Linked DNA regions of Homo sapiens. The protein of the gene in region 2 purifies or fractionates together with the protein of the main gene of each other region. This does not show direct contact. Each region holds a gene or a part of one and is shown on either strand. Other genes may lie near its edges. The genes, in order: TLE3 and OSR2.

Region 1 (3,812 bases), on a different chromosome or scaffold from region 2:
CAAGAGCAGCCAGCCTGGGAGAGAACAGGACAACATAGACTTCAGGCCCCAACAGGGTTTCCCTGGCCTCTCAGGCCCCACAGATGGGAAGTTGCTTCTCTCTTCTCCCTTCACAGGACACATTGGCAATGGGAGGCTTTGGTGACAGAGAGGCAAAGGAAACCTCTTCCAAAGGACTGCATTTTCAAAGCAATAATGAAGTCGGCTGGTGTGAAGGGGAGAAAAGTATTTGTTCTCAGATAAAATCTGCCGGGTGGACTAGCCGGGCCCCCTGGTTAACCCTCCAAGCCTGGTGTGAACCTGTACTTAAGAATACAAGTCCTTGCCCCACCCACCCTGTTGATTTCCAGACGGGCCTCTTGGGCCATCAACTCTGCAGCAAACAGCCTCCTAGAATCTGATTCCTTAGCGGTCATGGCCTGACTCTCCAACACGGTGACCCCTCTCCTCCAGCCCTCCCCCAAAAGGTGGCCTCTGCCTAAACATTCACAGTGACAGCTCTGCAGCCCACTGATTGTGCAACATCCTTAGCAAAGAAAAGAATTCAAAATCAATGCTGATGCGAATTCAGACTCTCCCATTACCTCCTTGAGAAACGCAAGGTCCTAAGGACCCTCAGTAGGGCAAGGCTGACCCACAGCTTGCTGCCTGCAAAGGACGATGCTTCAAAACAACAAACCCACCAAATATTCCCCGCTTACATGGCGGCAGGACGTTTCCCCCTTCCTTAAGTTTCTCCTTAACCCCAACTTGAAGGGAACAATTATTTTATAAAGAATTTTTTTTAAATATGTATTTTGAAGGAGAAGAGAAAGCCAAAAGAAGAAAGGAAAAGGAAAAAGGAAGAAAGCATCTTGGCTGTGAGTCTCAGAGAGCATTTGTTGAAAACAAGATATTGTCCCTTTAAGCATATAAAAACAAGGCCCTTGAGCACGCAGTTCTCACTCTGGTACACAATTATGGGTGCTTTCAGCTGTCTAGCACTACTTCAAGTGCTCTCTTAAACCAGACTGTCAATGGCATGTTGAAAGCTATTTTGCTGGCTGCTATCATTAATAGCAAAGTGGAGAGCTGGGCTGATGAGAATTAAATATGGGGGAGGGGGCGGGTCATAACCAGTCATTACAGAATTACCAATATGAGAAAGGAGACAATGCCACTTTGGGGAATAAAGTTCAAAGCAGCATATTACGGTAGGAAAGCAGGCAGAGCAGGCCACAAACGGCCCAGAGCGGGCCCCCGCCCCCGCCCCCACCCCCACCCCGCGGCAGATGGACTCAGGCCAGCCCTGGAGAGCCAGCCATGCAGGGATGCAGGGAGCCACCGGGTGGGGAGCCGCGACTGCAAGGGCAGAGGGGCCTTGGAGATCGCTCTGCTGCAAAATGTCACCACCTCGCCTCACTTCCCAAGTGCAGTCCCCGCCCCACATCATTCCGAAGACGTGTGGCTTCTAGAACATATCTCACTGCCTTGCCGCGAGCTGTTGCCACCCTGGAGGGGCCTCGGCTGCCGACTTCTGCCTCATAAACCCTACCCTCCCTTTCAGACTCGCGCCAAGCAAAGCCCTCAGTGAAGTCTGCTCTCACCCAAGAAGAATAAGCTGTTCTGTGCTGGGTGCTCCTCCTATGACACTTGGGCCACATTAGCACTTACCTCACTGCATTGCAATTACTTCTTTAGACATCCGACTCCCCCGCAGAGGGAATGGTGTCTTATTCGGCTGTGTAACCAACCCCAGCCCACACCCAGCACATCCCAGTCCCCTAATAACTGCTTTGGGAATGAATCCAACCCCCTCATTTCACTGATGAAGAAACTGGATGCTGGGCCATAGGAGGAAGCCTGCAGAGCGGGCGGCCAGCCCACAACTAAAATCCCCACTTCCTACTCACAGGGCTCAGGGAATCGGAACTCTACTCTCAGATAACCTGAGTAAATTTTGAAGAAAAACCAAGATGTTTACTGAGCACCTATTACATACTAAGTGCTATAGAGACCTCAGCAGAGGGGCTTCCTTCATACCTACAAAAATGAGACGAGGAATGAGTGCCAGATCACAGGGGAAAACACTGCCAAGCTTAGGTCTTTGTCACGTTTTTGCCCCTGGTGTCCCAGTATTTTGTACAAACAATGAGACAGAATGACATTCTCCCACGTAGAAAGCAAAAGGAGATTTATTCCTTGACTGACTCACTCCTTCAACAAAATGGAAACAAACAGCCTAGGTGGGAAGGAGGAGTTCAAGGAAAGGAAGAACTCCGTGTCTGCCACGGGCTCCTGGTCCAAGAGAGTTCAGAGAATGAGTCCCGAATTAGGAGCCAGGTTCCCACCCGTTGATCTGTAAAGTAAGGACAAGGGGCCATTTGCTCATCTCCCAGGGTCATTTCAATGACAAATGCACAAGAAGGAAAAGACCCCAAAAGCACTGAAACCCCCACTCTACCACTCCCACTGGCAACTAGAGAAAAGGGGTCCAAAGGCAGTCTTGAGGGGTGGGGCAACCTCCCTCTAGCTAGACAGCATGCAGGGAGCTTGGAGCCCAGCAGACCCCAAAGCTGAGCGAGGCAGGCACCCACTCAGTGAGAGGACTCGTGATTACAGTCTGTTCCAGGGAAGATCAATATAGCAGGAAAAGTCAAGACAGATACCAGGGCATGGGGCCGGGTGGGAGGGTTCTTGGATGCTAGCACTCTGGCAAAAAAGAAAAAAAAAATTTCACAGCTCAACTCAGATGCCACACAAATAGGCACTTCCCTAGTCTAAGGACCTTTGACCCCTTCTACTTTGCAAGTGGTCCCACATTCTCCTATCAAGATAGGCTCAACTCCTTGGCAGAGTCCTTTGTAACCTCATTGCCTGGTAGCTCCCTCTGGCCACCTGTACCTTGCACCTTCACCGTGGTCACAAAACTTCTGTGTGCCTCAAGATCTTCCAGGTGAGCCCCTTATCATTTAGATGAGAAGATCCAGAGCGGGGAGGGGAGGGGAGTGACAAATGGGGATTTTCCATTTCCTACCTCAGCCCTGTGTTTATGGCACCCCATGGCTAGGGTAAAAAGTTCACAGGTTATATATACCACCTTTCCCGGTCTGTGAATCTTTCCTCTGGGATTGCTAGTTATGCATTATGTATTATTATTACACACATCAAATCATTAGTTGTGCAAATAGCTGGCAATTCAAAACAGGACTGTGGACAATAAGGGTTCAGTGATATGATTATACAACCCGAAATGGGGCACTTTGGACTTTGGTGGGGCCAGTTTTGTAGCCTTAGCCTGTTTGGATAATAACACAGAAAGAAGCAATAGTAATTAAAGACACAGAATACACTAGAAAAGGAGCACTCTTCATTTCTTGAGTCTTACAGAAAAGAGTCCTGGGTTGGAAGGGAAGCAGCAGTAGCAGCTTTACCACTAACGTGGGACTGTATGACTGAGTACATAAGCTTCCCTTCTCTGGGCCACCGTTTCCTCATCTGTAACTTGAAAAGTTTGCATGAGAAGCCAAAGGGCTCTTCCAGTTCCAAGATTCAAAGAGAAACTTACAGGAAAGGTTGTTCAGTTCACAGAAAAAGGTGACTGTATTGTGTCGGCACGACACTGCCCCAAAATCAAAATGGCTCAAGTCCACTTTCAAAAATGTCAGTGCTCACCAACAGTGGGTGAAAAGGCTGCCTGACCCAGCTTCTCAGAGAGCCAGTGCCTCAAATCCAATGCATGGCAATTGCTCTGGGGCCCCTGGTTTTAAGCTGGCTTTGTTATTTGTGGCTGACACTGGAAAGCCTCTGCACAAACAAGATGGCAAGTGATG
Region 2 (2,891 bases):
CAAATACAGCTTAAAAGAAAGGTCCCCACGGCAGGCTCTGGGGCGCACCTGGGTGGAGGGTGGGGGGTGGGGGGAGGGACGAAACCCAACAGAAGTAGCCCGACTGCAGCCAGGACCGGCACCCCAGGGTACCTGGGTTCTGCCTGCACCACTCCCCACAGCACCGGGAGGAGACAGGATAACCATCCCAGGACTAAGGCCAACAGATTGTTCCTGTCCAAGACTGAGGAAAGGCCCTCCCTCATTCCAAACAAGAACGTAGCAAGAGCCGCTGGGGGAAAGAAAGGGTAGATGTTGGGAATTAGCTGAACCGGGCTGAGGAGCGTGACTGAGGGTGTATTTTAGATCACAGGGGATTATAATGACACTGGGAATGTCTATCAGGACTCGGTGTGTCCAGGACAAATTCGCTTTCCCTCTCCCAGCCATCCTCCTTGCCCGCCTCACCTGTGATCCCGCAGGTGATCTTGCCTCCGGAAGGCCTTGTGGCAGATGTCACACGTGTACGGCCTCTCGTCCGTGTGGGTCCTCTCATGGATGAGCAAATTGTAGGATTTGGTAAAGTGTCTGCCGCAAAACTTGCAGATAAACTCTTTTTTCGTTTTGGAGGGCAACCTTCCTCGAGAGGGCTTTCTGTCCGGAGTCAATTTACTGAGGCCCGAGATGGGGCTACCCAGTCCTGGGCTCAGCTTGCTCAGGTCTCCCATCTTAGGCGGATCCTCTTGCGTGGCAGCCACCGCCAAATTGGCAAAGTCAAAACGGGGCCGGTCCTTGTGCAGGGCTGGGAGGACGTGGGCAATGGCCCCCTGCTTGGGGTGGAATAGGTGGGTGGTAAAAGGCAGGGCCGGGAAGGGGAAGCGCGCGTCCACGAGGCCCTGCGCCGCCGCCATCTCCGTGATGGTGGAGCGGGTGATCTCGTGCACATTGGGATACCCCAGCGTCCAGTGGTTCATGTGCATGGTCTGTACCGCGCTGAGACCGTACAGGCCCTGCAGGTGGTCCACCGTGGCCGGGAAGGTGTTCACGGCCTGCAGGAAGGAGTAATTGGTGAGCTGCAGCGACGGGTGGAGCGGGATGGGCGCTGGCAGAGCCTTGCTCCCCATTTTCCGGGATGCTGGGGGTGCTGAGGGGACCAACCCTTTCTTCCAGGAATCAGAGGCCGGAGGGCGTGGGGCTCCGACAAAAACCCAGTGAGACAACAGCACGTAGAGAAAGCCCTAAAAATGGCAGGGAAGAGAGGGAGAGACCGTGACTATAATCCAAGGCTGCTCCTTCTGCCCTTTGGCACCTGCGCAGGTTACCACACCTAAGTCTCCCTCCCCACCCGACTCCAAGACCCCCCGAAAGCCGTGAGGGGACTGCGTGGCACCTTGGCACCTGCTCAAGTCCGCGTGCAGATCAGCCCGGGGCCAGAACAAGAAGTGCTCCACTGGCGAGCGCGTGCCCAAAGGAAAGAAAGTCGGATTCAGACTCTAGGCAGATACGGAGCGGAAGACTCCTCGGTCCCAGGAAAACGAAAGGCGGACAGCCGGGCAGCACCCAGCCCAGCCCAGCCCAGCCCAGCCCACCCTCCCCAAGCCTGTTAGGCGAAGCTCAGTCAACCGCAATGCCAATGCTAGCAGGCCGGGGCGAACCTCTGTCGCCGCTGCGCCTCGGAGCTCCTGGGAACGGTGGGTTAACGGATGGGTCGTGAGATCCCACGCGCTGCGCTGCCGCCGCGCCCTGTGGCCGCCTTTCCCGCGCTTACCCGGATGGCAAGCCGGCGTGCAAGAGCGAAGCCGGCGCGCTTCATCCTCCTGGGCCAGAGGGCCCTGGGAGGGGCTCACCTCGCCCCGCACTGACCTCGGAGGTTTTCTTTTTCCTTCCTCTGCCCTCAGCCCCATCTATCAGCGGTGACGGGCCGCAGGAAAGAAAAGTGACACCTCAGGGGCTGGATTCGGCCTAGAATCGCCCCCTCCTCCTATCCACGGGCTCTCCTCCCAACCCCCGACTAAGATCCCTTCCAGATGGTTCAGGCTCCCAGGGGGTGGGGTGGGGGCGGAGAACGTCCCTGAGGCCAGAGGAACCCCTTTTCCCAGACTGAGCGCCAAGCTCTTGGGAGGCCTGAGCTGCTTCCCGGCCTGGCACCGAGGAGCGACCCCTACATCCCTCCACCCGGGATGCCCCAGGAGACGAGAGAGGAGAGAGAAGAGAGGGGAGAGGAGAGAGGAGAGCGCTCCGGGGAGGGAGAGGAAAGGAGCTGCAGGGGAGCTGCAGTAGGCCAAGCACAGAGTGGCCCTGCTGGCTTGCAGGAACCTTGTCCGTTGGCCTGGAGGTGAGTGCGGCTGCGGTCCCACCACCAGGACGCCCGGCCTGGGCCTAAGCAGGGCGCTTCCCCTCTCTCCGTGCTCCCAATGGCAACACAGGTCTGATTTCAGACCCAGGTTCCCGGGATCACCTCACCTACATTCACAGCGGGCCCACCTTCTCCCACTACCAGCCCCTTTTTAGAAAGGAGTTCTGCCAGTTCGGGGGACCAGGGCCTTCCCTCTGAGGGCAGACCCCCAGGTGTAGGAGTCACGTTTCCCAGTCTGTGCCACCAACCGCCAAGCCTGGCATTTGAACCCAGCAGGAAGGCAGGAGAGACTCCAGCCTTCCCTTCCCACCCAACCCCTTCCTGCGTCTGACTTGTCCTCTCCAGCGCGTTATGAAGTATTGCCTATGGTTCCATCTGTGAGCAGACTTAGGGGGCTACGCTAATGACAGAGCGCTCTGGCAAGGCAGGATCTGGCTGCCTCTGCGGGGCCCACACCTTCCTCTGGAAGGGCTCGGGACAGAGATTTATTAACGAATCGCTTCTGCTTGGTGGTATGCGGTCTGGGAGTTCAGGCTAAGAGTTAATGAGAGGTGGG

What was found.
Region 1: the proteins of OSR2 (region 2) and TLE3 purify together in Homo sapiens (affinity purification with mass spectrometry; one large-scale study listed by BioGRID and IntAct). This does not show direct contact.

The regions. Positions count from the first base shown.
Region 1 is NC_000015.10:70,087,637-70,091,448, forward strand, and holds part of TLE3 (transducin-like enhancer protein 3), read right to left. Parts: intron 1-3,812. UniProt on the Homo sapiens protein: Transcriptional corepressor that binds to a number of transcription factors. Inhibits the transcriptional activation mediated by CTNNB1 and TCF family members in Wnt signaling.
Region 2 is NC_000008.11:98,947,165-98,950,055, reverse strand, and holds part of OSR2 (protein odd-skipped-related 2), read right to left. Parts: intron 1,884-2,891; coding exon of another isoform or gene 1,635-1,883; intron 1,540-1,634; exon of another isoform or gene 1,370-1,539; intron 1,218-1,369; coding exon of another isoform or gene 1,104-1,217; coding exon 448-1,103; intron 1-447. UniProt on the Homo sapiens protein: May be involved in the development of the mandibular molar tooth germ at the bud stage.